Regions from separate parts of the Homo sapiens genome. Here region 2 is linked to region 1. Evidence: fine-mapped expression QTL. Tissue or cell type: whole blood. Region 1 holds a variant in brackets; the other region holds the start of a gene. All regions are shown on one strand. Distances are from middle to middle.

Region 1 (8,143 bases):
GAAGCTGGGACTCAGACTTCTGAGGTGAGGGTACTGCCCAGCTGGTTCTGGGTTTGTTGGGAGGAGAACACAAACAAAAACAACTGAAGGCTGAAACAAACTGCAGCTGGTGGGATGAAAAGGCATTGCTGGGATGGTGGTCATAGGAACAGCCAGGCGCAAGAAGCAGTGGGTCCTTCTCCTCCAGCCCTGTAGACCTTCCAGCACCTCCCACTGGCAGCACATGGCCAAGTGTAGCAAGCAATGGAGAGAGCCGCAGAGTCCCAGCCCCAGTGTTCACAGGGTGGTGTGGGGCCAGGAAATAACAGTGGAATTGTGGAGACAAATAACTTTGTAAAGGGTAGATGTGACCCACTGATACTTATTACCCTTACTTCTGTTAAGTGCTCAGGCTAACTGCTTGCTCTCTCTTTTTTTTTTTTTTTTGAAATAGATTCTCACTGTCAACCAGGCTGGAGTGCAGTGGCACAATTTCGCCTCACTGCGACTTCCACCTCCCGGGTTCAAGTAATTCCCTTGCCTCAGCCTCCTGAATAGCTAGGTCCACAGGCACGTGCCACCATACCCAGCTAATTTTTATATTTTTAGTAGAGACGGAGTTTCGCCATGTTGGCCAGGCTGGCCTCAAACCCCTGGCCCCAAGTGATCTGCCTGCCTCAGCTTCCCAAAGTGCTGGGATTACAGGTGTGAGCCACTGTGCTTGGCCATTCTCTCTTTTAAAAATAGTTTACACTGGGCACAGTGTCCAGGGAAATCGCTTGAGTCCAGGGAAGTCAAAGCTGCAGTGAGCCATGATCATGCCACTGCACTCCAGCCTGGGTGACAGAGTGAGACCCCATCTCAAAAAAAAAAAAAAAGAATTAAAAAAATAGTTTACGGCCGGGCGTGATGGCTCACGCCTGTAATCCCAGCACTTTGGGAGGCCGAGACGGGTGGATCACGAGGTCAGGAGATCGAGACCACGATGAAACCCCGTCTCTACTAAAAACACAAAAAATTAGCCGGGCATGGTGGCAGGCGCCCTGTAGTCCCAGCTACTCCAGAGGCTGAGACAGAAGAATGGCACGAACCCGGGAGGCGGAGCTTGCAGTGAGCCGAGATCGTGCCACTGCACTCCAGCCTGGGCGACAGGGCGAGACTCTGTCTCAAAAAAAAAAAAAAGTTTACACGGCTGAATGCAGTGGCTCACACCTGTAGTCCCGGCACTTTGGGAGGCCAGGAGTTCAAGACCAGCCTGGGCAACATAGTGGGACTGTTTCTACAAAAAGAAAAAAAAAAAAGTTACGATATGGATTAGCAGAGGACATAAACCTCTTGTGTTACCAGCATTTAAGTTTTTAATAAGTAGAAAATATGGCTAAGGACTACATTCTATTCTATAATTATACCAACATTTACCCTAAAGTTCAGTGCTGCCTTCTATAGATAAAGTGGGCTGGGTGTGGTGGCTTATGCCTATAATCCCAGTACTTTGGGAAGCTGAGGCAGGAGGATCGCTGGAGCCCAGGAGTTCAAGATCGGTTAGGGCAACATAGTGAGACACCGTCTCTACAAAAAAATAAAAAATTAGGGCTGGGCGCGGTGGCTCACACCTGTAATCCCAACACTTTGGGAGGCTGAGGCGGGAGGATCATGAGGTCAGGAGTTTAAGACCAGCCTGGCCAAAACCCTGTCTCTACTAAAAATACAAAAATTAGCTGGGCGTGGTGGCAGGCACCTGTAATCCCAGTTACTCAGGAGGCTGAGGCAGAGAATTGCTTGAACCCGGAGGTGGAGGTTGCAGTGAGCTGAGATCACGCCACTGCACTCCAGCCTGGGCGACAGAGCAAGACTCCGCCTCAAAAAAAAAAAAAAAAAAAAAACATTAGCCAGGTGTAGTGGTATGTGCCTGTAGTCCCAGCTCCTAGGAAGGCTGACGTGGGAGGACTGCTTGAGCCTGGGAGGTTGAAACTACAATGAGCTATAATTGCACCACTGCACTTCAGCCTGGGTGACAGAGGCAGACCCTGTCTAAAAAAATATTAAAATGTAAAGATAAAGTATATGTCTGATTAATTTCTGTAATAATCAGGGCTACTATTTTATTTGATTGGCCGGGAAAGACCATCTTAGAGAATGAAGTGTGCTGCTTAGGGACAAAATTTACGTGTAATCAACTGTTAAGCTATTTGACTCGTAAGTCTTTGACAATACAATACAGACTTTTATATAACAGTTTCAGTAACAGTTAAGGCCACTATGCATCTCTTTAAATGCTGAAAAAGTTAACCAGATTTTTCTTTGAAATGCAAAACCAGTAAGTATAGTTTCCCGTCAGATGGGGTGCACAATGACAACAGGAAACAGAGGTGAGAGTGTGCACACTTGGTTTCAATATGTTTCAAAGAAATTTCGAGGAAATTCCTACAACACAGATGCTTTAGTTCCACTACTGAATACCACAGCAGTTCTTTGTACTCTGGTTTGTTAAGAAACATGGCATCAAACAACGAAGCAAAAGTTCAAGCACTTAGTGGCACTTTTCGAGTCAGCAACATTTACATTATAAAGTTCCTTTCTCCAAGCTTTTACATGACTATTTTTATACTTCATTTTTCACTCCCTGCTCTGTATTATAGCTATGTATGTCCAAGTCTGATCTTCTCCATGAAATTATAAACTTGAGGGCAAAATCCATGTAGGAATCCTCTTCGTGTTACCCCTAGTGATTAGACCAGCACATACAGAAGGCAGAAATAGATGTCTGTAGAATGAATACACGAACAACAAGATCTTCGGAAGAGTACAGCATATGCCCATGGTGACTCTTTAGATTTTGAATATTTGCCCCGCAGACTAAATGGCAGACTGGTACAATTAATGCTCACAAAATAACTGAAAAACACAGACCACCATGTGTTTTTAAATTAAGGGTTTGTGGAGTAATACTGAGTAAGCTTGACTAGCAGCTGAAACCCTCTGGTTCTGCCAGTGAGTTGTATGAAAGACTGGAAAATGAAGATGAAATGATTTAATAAAACAAGTATGATATCAACAGCCAGAAGACACAGGTTCTTGTTTCAGCTCTCCCACTTTCTTTCCTTTTTTTTTTTTTTTTTTGAGACAGCATCCGCTCTCTTGCACAGGGTGACTGCGATGGCCATCACTGCAGTCTCAACCTCTCAGGCTCAAGTGATTCTCCCACTTCAGCCACGTGAGTAACAGCCGCGCGCCACCACACCTAGCTAATTTTTGACTTTTTGTAGAGACGGGACCTCGCTGTTTCCCAGGCTGGTCTCAAACTCCAGAGCTCAAGTGATCCTCCCGCCTCGGCCTCCCAACATGCTGGGATTACAGGCGTGGGCCAGAGCACTCAGCCTTCTCTCACTTCATACACAAGACTTTGGGCAAATAACTTAACATCTCTGAGCATCAATGTCCTTATCTGTAAAATGAGATTTATAGCTTCTGTCTATCTCATAGGGTCATTAAGATCAAATAAAAATGTTTTGAAAACCATACAGTGCTATAAAAATATATGTTATCATTAGTGATCCTTAGTGATTAGCATTAGTGATAACATCTTCATTAAAGAACTTGTAATGCTATTTTGAATGCTTGGAAAAAATAATGCACAAATGAAATACAAGCAATTAGGTAAGTATCTCTTATCTACAAATCCCAAAGCACTTGAAGTAAATACA[G/A]TTAGGATATATCTCACTTGGTCGTGACCCAGAAGAATTATTGTAGATCTGCCCTATATTCTACTGGAATTTAACATCTTGGAAACAGCTACCCCCACCACCCCCCACCCACGGACACATACAAGTTTCTACCATAGTGACTGAAAGGCTCTCTGAGATTCTCGGTTTAGGATCACTAGGGAAATGGAAGACACTGTCTAAGGTAACGTGAGAGTTAAGCACGTTCTCCTTTTGTCTGTTGTGACCCTGACTGTCTAACAAACAAACGTGACTTCTGAAGCCTGATCCGAAACAATCAGGAGCTGAGCGAGAAAACAAAACAGAGGTCTGAGGCACAGCTCCTGGGCAGGCTCTCCCGCATCCTGCAGTGAGGCTGCCGCACCCATAGTTTCAGATCTGAGATTAGCGCCTGGCCGAGGGCTGCTGATGCAGGAGCAATGCTGCCCTGCTACCCCTCCCACCTCCACATCCACAGACAGCCCTGGGGGACACGGCTACCACTTCTCTGGGGTACACGTCCACAAACGGGACTCCCTGGACTACATGGGAACCAGGCCACAGAGAAGGCAATCACATTTCTATTAATCACCTCTTTCCAAGGCACATTCTGTTTTTTTGTTGGTTTGTTTATCAAGGTATAATTTATATACAGTAAAATTCAGCCTTTTTGGTGTACAGTTCTGTGAATTTTGACAAACACACACAACAGTGTAACCACCATTACAAACAAAATAAAGAACATTTCCATTACCCCCACATTCCCTTGTGCCCTCTCTAGTCAACTCCTCCATGCACCCCAGTCCCTGGCAACCATTGATCTATTTCTTATCTCTATCGTTTTGCTCTTTCCAGAATGACACAACACTCTTTACAATGCTTAAGTAAAATAGCCAAAGGCCTCATTCAGTTCGCATAGAACACCACGCACTCAGCCACCATAGGAGACTTTCAAATACATCAGAAATAGTGAAGCCAGTCTGATGGTGGGAAGGGCGGTAAATTCACTAGAGCCTGAGATGACTCTGCAGGCTCTGCTGAAAGACCCCCGAAAGCAGGACGCTTCTTAGTGGGCTGTGAAGTGGATAGTTTAAACCCAAAGACAAATAACTCATTTAAAATAGTCTCTATAGAAATGGCCTATGTCCTCTTCCATGATTGTATAATATACAGTACCAGACACGATTAGGTTTCCTTCCAGTTTAGATAACTCTGCTTTCTTCTGAATTGCTACTAAAACAATAGTAAAGAGATTTAAAAAGAGAGAGAGAAAAATATAAAACCACAAGAGCAGGCCGGGCACGGTGGCTCACACCTGTAATCCCAGCACTTTGGGAGGCCAAGGTGGGCAGATCACGAGGTCAGGAGATCGAGACCATCCTGGCTAACATGGTGAAACCCCGTCTCTACTAAAAATACAAAAAATTAGCCAGGCGTGGTGGCGGGCGCCTGTAGTCCCAGCTACTCAGGAGGCTGAGGCAGCAGAATGGCGTGAACCCGGGAGGTGGAGTTTACAGTGAGCCGAGATAGCACCACTGCACTCCAGCCTGGGTGACAGAGCGAGACTCTGTCTCAAAAAAACAAAACAAAACACAAGAGCAGAGGGAATGGGAGAGGATATTATAATAAAAACTTGGAAGCTGAAACACACACTGACAAGTGGAAAGCGATTCAGGAGAACAGAAAGGGCCGAAATCCCAAATGGCAGAAACATATTCATGTCACAGAACTCCAGACAGGCTTAGGAAATGGAGGTGTAGGTCCTCCTACAAGCGGGGTAGAGCAAGGCTGGAAACAGGAGACTGGGGTTGGTGTGAAAAGCATTTAGACCCCTAGATCTTTTTCCAGACACCACGTAACCAGGAGATCACCTGTCTCTCCAACTTCATTGGTTATCGGGAAAATGAAAATAAATTCTACAAACCTACCACAATGGCTAAGATTAAAAAGATGGAAAATACTAGGTGCTGGACATTCTAAACACTGCTAGTGGGAAAAAAAAATTGGTAGAATCACTTTGAAAAGCGGTTAGCGGTATCTACTACAGCATATTCTATGACTCAGCAATTCTCCTAGCTATAGCCTTAACAGGTATGCATACATATACACAACAAAATACATGTAATAATAGAACGTTCATAGCAGCACTATGTGTAATAGCCAAAATGCCCCAAAAAAGCTCAATGCCTGCAAACAATAGAGTGGATAAATTATGGTGTATTCACACAATGAAATACTATGCAGCAATGGAAATGAACCGTACACAGCACAGGAATAGTTTGTTCCTTCTCGTTGCTGTACGCCATTGAGGTAGGATGTAGGACTTGACTCAAGAAGTGAGACTCAACTCCAGAGGTGGGGCTCGCACATCAGACTAAATTGAGCACAAGCTAAAACAGGGACTGGGCAGAAGCAGCTTTCCATAAGATAGCCCATACCTCCCATACCTGTCAGTGTGTGCCATGTCAGTTTACTATTGCCACGGCAACACCTGGAAGTTACCACCCTCTTTCATGGCAATGACCCAATGACCCGGAAGGTACTATCCTTCTTGAAATTTCTTTATAATTTGTCCCTTAATTTGCACATAATTAAAAGTGGGTATAAATATGATTACAAACCTGCTCTGAGCCGCTACTCTCAACACACTGCCTTTGGGTAGCCCTGCTCTGCAGGAGCAGTCACAGAGCTGTAACACTGCCGCCTCAATAAAGCTGTTTTCTTCCACCACTGGCTCTTAAATTCTTTCCTGAGCAAAGCCAAGGACCCTCCTGGGCTAAGCTACCATGAGATAAATAAATGTCACAAAGATGCTGAGTGAAAGGAGCCAGACATTAAAGAGCAAATTGAACACAGTTCCACTTATATAAAGTTCAAACCAGGACAGAAGTTAGGATTGCGGTTACCTTAGGCTAGAGGTAACAACAGGAAAGGAGCAGAAGGGGAGCTTCTGGGGGTGCTGGCCATGTGCTACTTCTTCATCTGAATGCTGGCCACAGCGGAGGGCTCACTTTGTGAAAATCAACTGTGCATGGATGACTTGTCATCTTTCTGTGTGTATGTTATACATCAATAAATATTTTTAAAGAGGACAAGTCAGCCCTAGGTAAATGGATCTAGAATGATCTCCAATATGATACACCATTAAATTAAAAAGCAAGGGCCGAAGTATGTACGGGAGTGTAGTCATGTGCTGGCGTCCCAACCTTCCCCAACTCCCTCCCCAGGTCTCTGTACCCCTGCTGTGGAGAGTTTTGGCTACAAACAGCCATAGCTACCCCTTCTCCAAGAACTGGGAACCAGAGCCACCTGATCCAAGAGTCTTCCTGATTCCCTATCTCACTCCAGGACAGCCACCAACAGCCAGTGACTGATTGACAGGGCTGTACAAAAAGCTGGCCCCTTTACCTTGAGATGAAGCAACTCTGTGGTACAAGCTGTACTCCAAAGCTTTCCCGTGGGACCAGGCCAAAATGGGTCTTGGCCAAGACCGCACTCATGTTTGGTTTTGCTCCACTGCCCCATCTGTCTTCCTCATCTCTAGAGAGCATTCCCTCAATAAACAGCTTTCACAAAGATCTCCATCTCAGGCTTTGCTCCCAGAGAACCCAACCTAAACCGGTTGATATCAGATGTTGTCTATGGATGGAATTTGGGGGTGGATCACCCACAGCCAGATGGCAATGAGGACCCATCACTGAGGTGGGTGGAAAGTGGATGGTCCCCAGCATGCTGCAGACATTCCCCTGTGGTGAAGGGGAATAGGAGACACGGGGCTGTATAATATCCAGGCGATTTTGATGTCTTGGTACAGGAGGTACAGGAGAAACAGTTACAGTAAGGACTGTGAAACTGGGTGACTGCTATTAAGAGGACTGTTTCATTGAAAAGAGAAAATGAGTTTCAGGTATAGCAATCAAAAATGTAAAGCCAACTATGAGCCTGGATGTGGTGGCTCATGCCTGTAATCCCAGAAATTTGGAAGGCTGAGGCGGGAAGATCACTTGAGGCCAGGTGTTTGAGACCACCCTGGGCAACACAGCAAGACCCCATCTTTATAAGAAAAACTAAAAATAAAGAAATAAAGCCAGCTATGATAGTCAGTAAGCTTCCTTTGGCAATTTTTACTTATTTATTAATTTATTTGAGATAGGGTCTCAATATGGTACCCAGGCTTGGAGTGCAGTGGTGTGAACATAGTTCACTGCAGCCTCAAACTTCTGTCTCAAGCCATCTTCCCACCTCAGCCTCCCGAGTGCTGGGATTACAGATGTGCCACCATGCCAGGCTGCTTTGGCAGCATTTAAAGACAATCATTTCCTGCAGGCACAAGACCTAATTTTAAGAGTGGCAGAATCAAAAAGGATGAACTCTCAGCCTATACTAGTCTACTGTGCCAGATTCAGGCCCTGGTAGGGAAGGAGTGAACTCTAAGACTTGAGATGGGAACGTCTGTGTATATT
Region 2 (8,087 bases), 52 kb before region 1:
CGAAGTCCAGGCTGTCGGCAGCCTGCTCCACCGAAGGCCCCCAGGTGGCAGGGCAGTCGATGTGGCGGCCGTGGATGGTGAGGTCCACGTCCACGTGTGAGGCGGGGCTCAGAGGCGGGCTCAGCTCCAGGGCCTCCAGTGCACCCAGCTCCCCGCCCAGAGTGCCGGCGTCGAAGATGGCCTCCCAGTCAAAGTTGCCTTTGAGGGGTTCCAGCTCACCCTGCTCCTCCGGGGTGGGCAGCAGGGTGCTGGGGGGCCGCGGGACCTTGGCCACCCGCTTGGGCAGCGGCTGTTTGCGCTTATGCCCCAGCCTGCCCTCGCCTGCACCCCAGCCCGCCTCCCCGGTGGCCTCCTCGAACTCCCGCAGCAGCTGCTGGGCCTCGGTATTCACCGTCAGCGGCCCGGCCCGGGGGACAGCGCTGGGCTCCTGCGCGGCCTGGCGGGCAAAGGCTGGGTGGATGTGGACAGGGGGCAGTCGCCGCTTCTTGAAAGCGCCGCTCAGTAGCCGCTCCGCGTACTGGGGGTCAATGCGCCAGAAGCCCCCCTTGCCTGGTTCGTCCTTCTCCCGAGGCACTTTGATGAAGCACTTGTTCAGAGACAGGTTGTGGCGGATTGAATTCTGGGTGCAGGGAGAGAGCAAGAGAGAGAGGAACCGCTAGGTCAGTGGGGACGGGGAGATGAAATGGCACCTGGCGCTGCTGCGCACCCCCCATCTTTTCTCTGGCAGGGGAGAGGAGGGGGGGACAGACACACTGGTCTGCCCAGGCGGCTGCAGCTCTGGGACACCAGCCACAGGGCACTGGGAGCCCGGAGTGCTGTCGGAGGCTTTTGTTCCCTGTTGCCGGGATATCTGCCTGCTCAGTCATCCGAGCTCTGAGCCGCAGGGTGGCTCTCGGTGCCACCCCCGTCGCCTGCCCTCCCTCCCTCACCCTGCCGCTGACAGCCTCTGGCCAAAGCCCTCGGCTCCCCCAGGGCCTGGACCACCGTCTCCCTTTGCCTGGGCCTGGCTGGCCCTCTCTGTGAGTGAGTGGGTCCAGGGAGGGGGCTGGGCAGCCGAGAGTGGAGAGGAAGGGGGAGAGAGAGAGAGAGCGCGCAGGGATGAGAGGTGGGGGATCTGATGACTTTCCTTGTTTGTTGAGCCGGCTGCTGGCCTGGGCCTTCACCCCCCACGGCCCCCTCCCCCCACTCCAGGCTCAGTTGATTATTACCCAGCCAAGAGCTAAGAGCATAGCACTCATTCCTGGGGCCCGTTTCTCGAAGCGCAGCTGCACAGGCTTAGGGTAGGGTGGGGCTGAGGGTCTCTGCTTTTTCGGTGCAGCTGCAAATGACCCTGCTCTAGGGTCAGGGGCATTGGAAATGGCTTGGGACTGCGGTCCTGTGGCCTGCCCGCTTTGGGTGCTTCAGGGAAGAGTCTGGGCGTCCTTGGGGGGCCCCTGACTCCAACTAGCCCTTGATGGTGATGGCTGAAGACTCTTAGGGCACTGCCTACCCAGCCTCAAATCCACCATCCTCCTGCCTTGTCCATTCTTAGGTGCTTAATCTTGTCCAAAGCCTGCTGGGGGACAGGGGTCCTGGGCTGGGACGGCAGGGCAGGTGGGTGGATAATGCCCGGCAGCAAGGCTGGGATGTTTACATGGTGGCCTGGGCCCCTTGGCTGCTCAGTGCCTGGTTCCAGAGACGTGGAACACGAAGTGAGTGTGGTAGGCAGAGCCCCAGTGGAAGGCACCTGGCTCAGGTAATTGTCCCCCCAGGGAGGTTGGCTGACAGCGGGGGTTGGAGGCAGGAAACTGAGCAGAGGTTGAGGTGGGGGGCTGGGACAGCAGCTTTAGGAAGGCCCCTTACCCCCTCCACCCTCCATTGGGACACACCTGGCCCTCACATGCTAAGGCACCCCTTCCATTCCACCCTCCCCAAGCCAACTGCAAAAGGGCAGGACGTAGAGCCTGGCAGGGAGGCCACGTTCCAGTTTCCGTTTCTGACTCCCGGCCCCGACAAACCATCCCGGGGCAGGGCAGTGTCTAGGAATTCTAGGACTTGGGACAAGAATGCGCCTTCAGTTCATCGCTCTCCCCAAGGAGATTCTGTCCACGCAGAGTCTAGCCCTGGTCTTTGGCCTGGGCCTGCTGGATGAATGGCAGGTTATTTCCCCTTGAATCTCAGCCTCTGCACCCCTAAAGCCCTCCACCTCTGGACATTCTCCCTTCTCTCTCTCTCTCTCTCTGGAAGTCAAAGGAGGGGCAGTTGCAAGAACTGGGCTCCTTTGCAGGGCTCCCTTCTGGGGCGCTGGCCGCACCGCAGAGCCTACTTGGCCTGCAGATTTGGGATATGAATCCAGTGCAGCGTGGGGAGCGAGGAGGGAATGGGGAGGGAGCGGCCGCCGCCCGTGCCTCCTCTACCTGCCAGGTGGGATCTGCGTGGCGGAAGTAGCAGAAGTTGTCCGTGATCCACTTGTAGATGGCCGACAGGGTGATCTTGGTGGCCTTGCTGGCCTGCATGGCCATGCAGATGAGCGTGGCATACGAGTAGGGAGGCTTCACGTGCGGATTGGTGGCGTAGTCCACGTCGTCGGGGGGTGGGGCCTGCAGCCCCGGGGGCGCGCTCCGCGACGTGCACGACGACGTGGGCTTGCCCGGCGTGTGTGGCTGCCCCAGGCAGGCGGGGTCGGCCGCCAGGGGGGACCCGGGCGCCGCTGAACCTGGCACCTGGTGGTAGCCGTGGGGGTCGGTGCCCCCCGGGGGCAGGGCGGGGGCCTTGGCGTTGAGAATGGAGAATTCCTGCAGCCACTGCAGGCTGGTCAGGCTGTCATCCAGGGCGTCGGGCTCCTCCAGGCCGCCCTCCGGCCCGGCCTCCTCCGCCGGCCCGGCTCCCGAGAGGCGCAGCCAGCTCTCCGCCATGTCTGCGGGGACTCTCCGAGGGGGCGGTCAGCATCCACGGGCTGAGCCGGGGGTGGCCCGCCGCGCTCTCTGGCCCGCTGAGTCCCGCAGCTCCCGTTACACGGCCTCCCGGACGCGCGCTTCCATCTCGCGACCCCGGGGGCGCCTCCTCCGAATAAGTATGTGGTGCCTGCGAGGACCACGGTGGGAGCTGAGCACTACCCCACCCCCGAGGGGACAGTGTGTGTACGGGGACGCCCTCTCTAACATCATCCCCGCAGCTGGGGAGGATCTTTTAGTGCCGAGGTATGGGAAACAGAAGCAAGGCCCTGGGGTCCCACCCCCATCAGATCTGCCTCCCTCTTCCTTTCCTCTTCGAGGTTTTATTAGCCAAATGAAGAGGGTAGGGGCATCCGAGGCTATCCTTTTCTCCCGAAGAGCAGGAAATCAGGACCCCCTTCCTCCTCGCAACAAATGGAAGTGGGGCGAGAAGTTTGGGAGGGCGGTACGACGGGGCGGGGGCGGTGGAGGTCCTCTGATCCTTGAAAAGGAATATTATGATAGGGGATCATTGGGAAGGAAGGGGACGGAACAGTAACGGGGGGCAGGAGGCGAGTTTCCCCCAGACTTCTCCGATGTCAGTCCCTGGGCCCACCACTTCCGTTAAGGACGAATGAGAGAGCGGGTTGGTACCGTTGCCCACCCTTCCCCCTGGCCTGCAGCCCTCCCCATCCCTTACCTGGCTCAGAGCGCAGCCCGGGCCAGAGGAAGGTTCTGGAAGAAGTTGCTCCCACCCCCTGCGGCTCTCTGCCCCCAGCTCGGGGGCCCTGCCAGCGCCTCTTGCCGCCCCCCCGCCCGACGGCGCTTCTCTGAGCTACCGCGGCCCCGGGACCGGCATTAAGTAGCCGCTCCAAAGGCTTCTCCTGCTGCCATGGCGACGCTCCGCCCCCATAAACAGCTTCCGCCTCTGCCATTGGCCAGCACGTCTCCAAGGAGACCGCGGGCACTTGCCACTCTCCCTGGCGGCAACTCTCTTCGAACTCCCTCCTTCTGCCGCCCTCTCCCGCGCCACCCAACCCCCTACCCGCCGCTAAGTCCCGGCTCGGCTCATTCCCGCCCGAGGGCCCCGCGCTGGGGTCGGAGAAGCGCGCGGCCTGCGGCACCGGGAACCGCTATGGATCCGTTCGTTCTGGGGAACCAAGACTCTCGCCCCCACCCCCTTCCTGTCCCGTACGCTTTGAGGCGTCGACTGCTCCTGGGACGGAGCCTGGGGTTGGGGGGCTAAGGCTGGGAGCGGGCTCAGGCTCGGGAACCGTATCCTTGAGGTTTTCTTTCCTCTCCGCTACGAGTGGCACTTTCTCATGTTTCTGCAGCCTTTCCCTCTCCCCCGACTCTTAGGGTCTTTCTCTGGTGTCCCAGGCAGGTCTGACTTTCCGATGCCACCTGCCGCTTACATCCACAGAGGCGGCAGACACACCAAGGGGGTAGGGTAATCCAGTGTGTCCCAGTAAGCAGCTCCTTCCCCACCCGTATCCTCGAGGTTCCAGGAAGCTGACATTCCAGAGGCTTCTGCAGAAGCGCACTCACTCCTCTGGAGACAGCTGATGAAGCAGAGCCCGTGGGTAAAACTCTGAAGTCATGGACTTGTCAAATTCTCCTAGCGGGGTCATTTGCCCAATTAATTTCACCAACCTTTAAGTCACAGGGATTAAGAGTAGAGGGACTCTGGGGACTGTGTCCCTTCCTCCTCCCTTCCCCTGGCCTCCCTCCTGTCACCAGCTTTCCTGCTCTTTAATTATTGAGGAGCTGCAGGGTTGGACGTTCTCCGGTTTAAGGCGGCTGCAGAGGCAGTGGTGGGGGCTGGGTTGATTACCCCGCCTCTGCCCAGGAGCTGGAGAGCCGGGGTCGGGGAGGCTGGTGCCCAGACCATGAAGAAGGCCCGGCTATGGCGCATCACTCCCCCGCCAACATGCCTTTCCCTAGCCCTTGCCTCTCCCACTCCTCCAACTCCAGATCCTCTTGAGTAAAAGTATTAAAGAGTGCTGGCGAAAGTCAGACAGAAACTTTCACAGATAAGCTCACTTTGCAGTTAGCTCTCCTTCCCTTGTAAACAGTTTTATTCATTTTTAAGAATCATGCAGCAATCCATAAATATTGCATTCTTGATGTCCCCACTGTAGTGTGACCACAAGTGTACTCCAGGGAGAGGGGTACACAGATGGCACAAGCAGTATACACATGCACACACCAGGTGTGCAGACCAAAGCAAAGTGAGCGACCAGCGTGCTAAACTCCAGGTGGGCAGGACCCCAACTCCCAGGTGAGGTGGGCAGGACCCTAACTCCCAGGCCAGCCGGCTTAGAGTGTGGTGGTCTGTGCCCAGGAGATGCCTCAGCGGGGGTAGAAACTCTGGTGGGATGGAGCTGGGCAGAAGGAAAAAAGGGCTCTGTGAGGAAGCCGGGATCACACCACCTGAAGGCAATAGGGAGAGCACAGGCCTAGTGCAGCAGGAAGGAGCCCTGGGTCTCCATAGTTAGGCTGTGCCCTGTGGGAGAAGCCAGGCCCCACCTCTTCTCTTTGGGTGAACTGTTGACGTGACTATGTGACTGTCTCCAGATGAAGGACTGGGGCAAAAGGGTTGGCCACTGACCTGTCCTCATCAGGCTGACTGAGGACCAGCTCCTTGGATGGAGTATTTCTGTGGGCCAGAGAGCTAAATGACAGCCAAGAGAAGGCAGGGGGAGGGAGGAAGAGGAGAAATAGTAACTGAGAAACAAGTAAAGGACATTTCTAACCTAGGTATGCCTTGGACATGGGACTGAGGCCTTGAGGAATCTTTCCGTGCTTCTCCCTAGGAGAGGACTAAGCACCTGCTGCGAGGAAGGACAGGGATCCTCAGGAAGGGGGTCCTGGCCACTGTGGCTACTGTTTACCTGAATCTCCTTCATCTCAGCTCCTTCCTCCCTCCTCCCAGGTAACACCACACTGTGAATACTACCTGCAGGGGACAGGACAGGAGGTGGTCTGTGTGCCACCACCCCAGGGTAAGGGAAGCTCCCTGTCACCTGCTGCTTCTGGGCTCATATTTCAGGGAAATCAGGAAGTGGGGTTATTGCTCAGCTTATGCATCTTAACTATGAAAGGGGCGGGAAGAATGTAGGGGGAAGGAAGGAAAGAACATTAGGTGGGGCCTGAAATGGTAAAGTCTACTGCAGTTTTTCAGAGAGGGTTGGACGACAGGCCCCCCTCTCCATCAGGGCAGGATGTGAGCCACAACCACTAGGCAGTGAGACAGTCACTGCACTCCTGGCCTCTGCAGCCACACAGAAACGAAGGACCCCCTGGGCACCAGGCTCTTTTTGAGGCTGCCTTGGAAACAGCCTTGAATTTTTTTTTTTTTGTTTGAGACAGAGTTTCGATCTTTTCAATCTTGTAGCCCAGGCTGGAGTGCAGTGGCACGATCTTGGCTCACCGCAACCTCCACCTCCTGAGTTCAAGCGATTCTCCTGCCTCAGCCTCCCGAGTAGCTGGGGAGGGCCCTTGAAGTGAAGGCCCTGAGCCCTGATTCCAACCTCTGCTCCCAGCACACTGCTGCTGGCCACATGCTGCTGCCTGAACTTAGCTCAAGGCTCTCCATCACTTCCTTTGGGGACCTGGGCACCAAACTGAGAATCACTGGTCCACATTTCTCTCAACCATTAACAAAAGGGGGTAGAGATGGGGGCAACAGGGACAAGAATGCCACCTCCCAATTGAGTGAGGATGAATTATGGTAATATACGACCACTCCTCACCCAGTGCTTGGCACACAGAGGTGGTCAACACATGTGTTTCTTGAAATGTCACCTTAGGATGGAGTTGCAGGCCTCCCTGAATGCACCTGATCAGGAGAAATGCTCCTTAAGGGAAATCATCTTAACTGGGGGATTCTCAGATTCAAGGGCTCCTTCTTTTTTTTTTTTTTTCTCTGTCGCCCAGGCTGGAGTGCATTGGCGCGATCTCGGCTCACTGCAAGCTCCGCCTCCCGGGTTCAGGCCATTCTCCTGCCTCAGCCTCCCAAGTAGCTGGGACTACAGGCGCCTGCAACCATGCCCAGCTAATTTTTTGTATTTTTAGTAGAGACGGGGTTTCGCCGTGTTAGCCAGGATGGTCTCGATCTCCTGATCTCATGATCCACCCGCCTCGGCCTCCCAAAGTGCTGGGATTACAGGCGTGAGCCACCGCGCCCGGCCAAGAGCTCCTTCTTAACCGCACAGGCATGTGAGGCCCAGAAGACTGGCTCTGCCACCAGAAGGAAGGATTGTTTCCTTCAACCAACCTTTTGGTTGCTACCATTTCTTGTCCTTGAGAAAGGTGCTCCTAGTGCTTGTAGAGGGAAACGCTACGTCCGTGCAGTATGGCTCTCCCTTTCCACAGGAGCGATCCTCCAGCCCTACCCCAAACTGCAGGTTTCCAATTGGTTATGATGTGCCAGAGACCAGGAAATGCCAGAGGGATGTTTGTAACAAAGCTGCCAAACTCTAAGCCTTCTTGTTCTACCCCCTAAGGAGAAAAAAGATGTGTAAGAAATTAGCCCATGGACCCCAGCTCCACCTGAACATCAATATACCGTGAGGACATTCCAGAGTCCCTGCAAAAGGTCTCGTGAGCTGCAGTTCATTGAGTGGCTTTAGGTCACACGGAGAAAGGAGGGTTCCAGTTCCCTCTGAGAGGTGAGGGATTGTGGTTACAGGTTGTAACAGCTGTCACAGGAGGGTAAAAAGTCTCCAGCATCTTGCTGAGGATGCCCAGTAGGCAGCAGCTGAGTGAGGATGGATGGAATGCAGGGCAGGAGGGGAGCCCAAGTGCAGAGGCTGGGGCTCAGACAGCCAAAGGGCCCCACACACAGGGCCTCGTCTCAGAGTCCTCCAGGCTGCTGGATGACAAGCGCCGGCGCTGGGCATTCCGACTGACGGCATTGTCATCAGCCTGCCAGGCACCTGGGGAAGAGAAAATGAACATTACAGGAGCCAGACCTTTGGCCAAATCCAGATGGTGTCTCCAGCAGGGCAGCCCAGGAGCCGGCACGGAAGGAGCAGGATGCGTGTCACCTGAGACTCCGATGACGGTGCGAGCCACAGCACTCGTGTGTGAGAACGGAGAGAAGCAGGTGCTGACAGGTGCAGAGCCTGCTCCTGCCCCCTGGGCTAGGTACAGTCACTGCCACTGTGGCTC

The links. PIP is the estimated chance that this variant, and not a neighbour inherited with it, causes the effect.
Region 2: it holds the start of FOXJ1, and the variant in region 1 is fine-mapped to the expression of FOXJ1 in whole blood (TOPMed, PIP 0.96).

The regions. Positions count from the first base shown.
Region 1 is chr17:76,189,761-76,197,903 of GRCh38, forward strand. All of the region lies in intron 2 of RNF157 (ring finger protein 157), which reads right to left. Among named protein-coding and RNA genes, the nearest start is that of RNF157, 47 kb to the right of the region's middle. RefSeq lists an enhancer at 1,012-1,511. The variant G/A (reference allele first, on the strand shown) is at 3,684.
Region 2 is chr17:76,137,502-76,145,588 of GRCh38, forward strand. FOXJ1 (forkhead box J1) reads right to left here and starts at 3,744. Exons shown (of 3, transcript NM_001454.4): 1 at 3,613-3,744; 2 at 2,397-3,063; 3 at 1-619. The coding sequence starts at 2,894. RNF157 (ring finger protein 157) reads right to left here. Exons shown (of 19, transcript NM_052916.3): 19 at 4,973-7,852. The coding sequence ends at 7,734. RNF157-AS1 (RNF157 antisense RNA 1) reads left to right here and starts at 3,055. Exons shown (of 8, transcript NR_040017.1): 1 at 3,055-3,179; 2 at 5,729-5,847; 3 at 7,421-7,585; 4 at 7,921-8,063. RefSeq lists enhancers at 1-188, 189-848, 1,511-2,170, 7,332-7,880, 7,847-7,906 and 2 more and silencers at 2,582-2,771, 2,832-2,901, 3,580-3,739.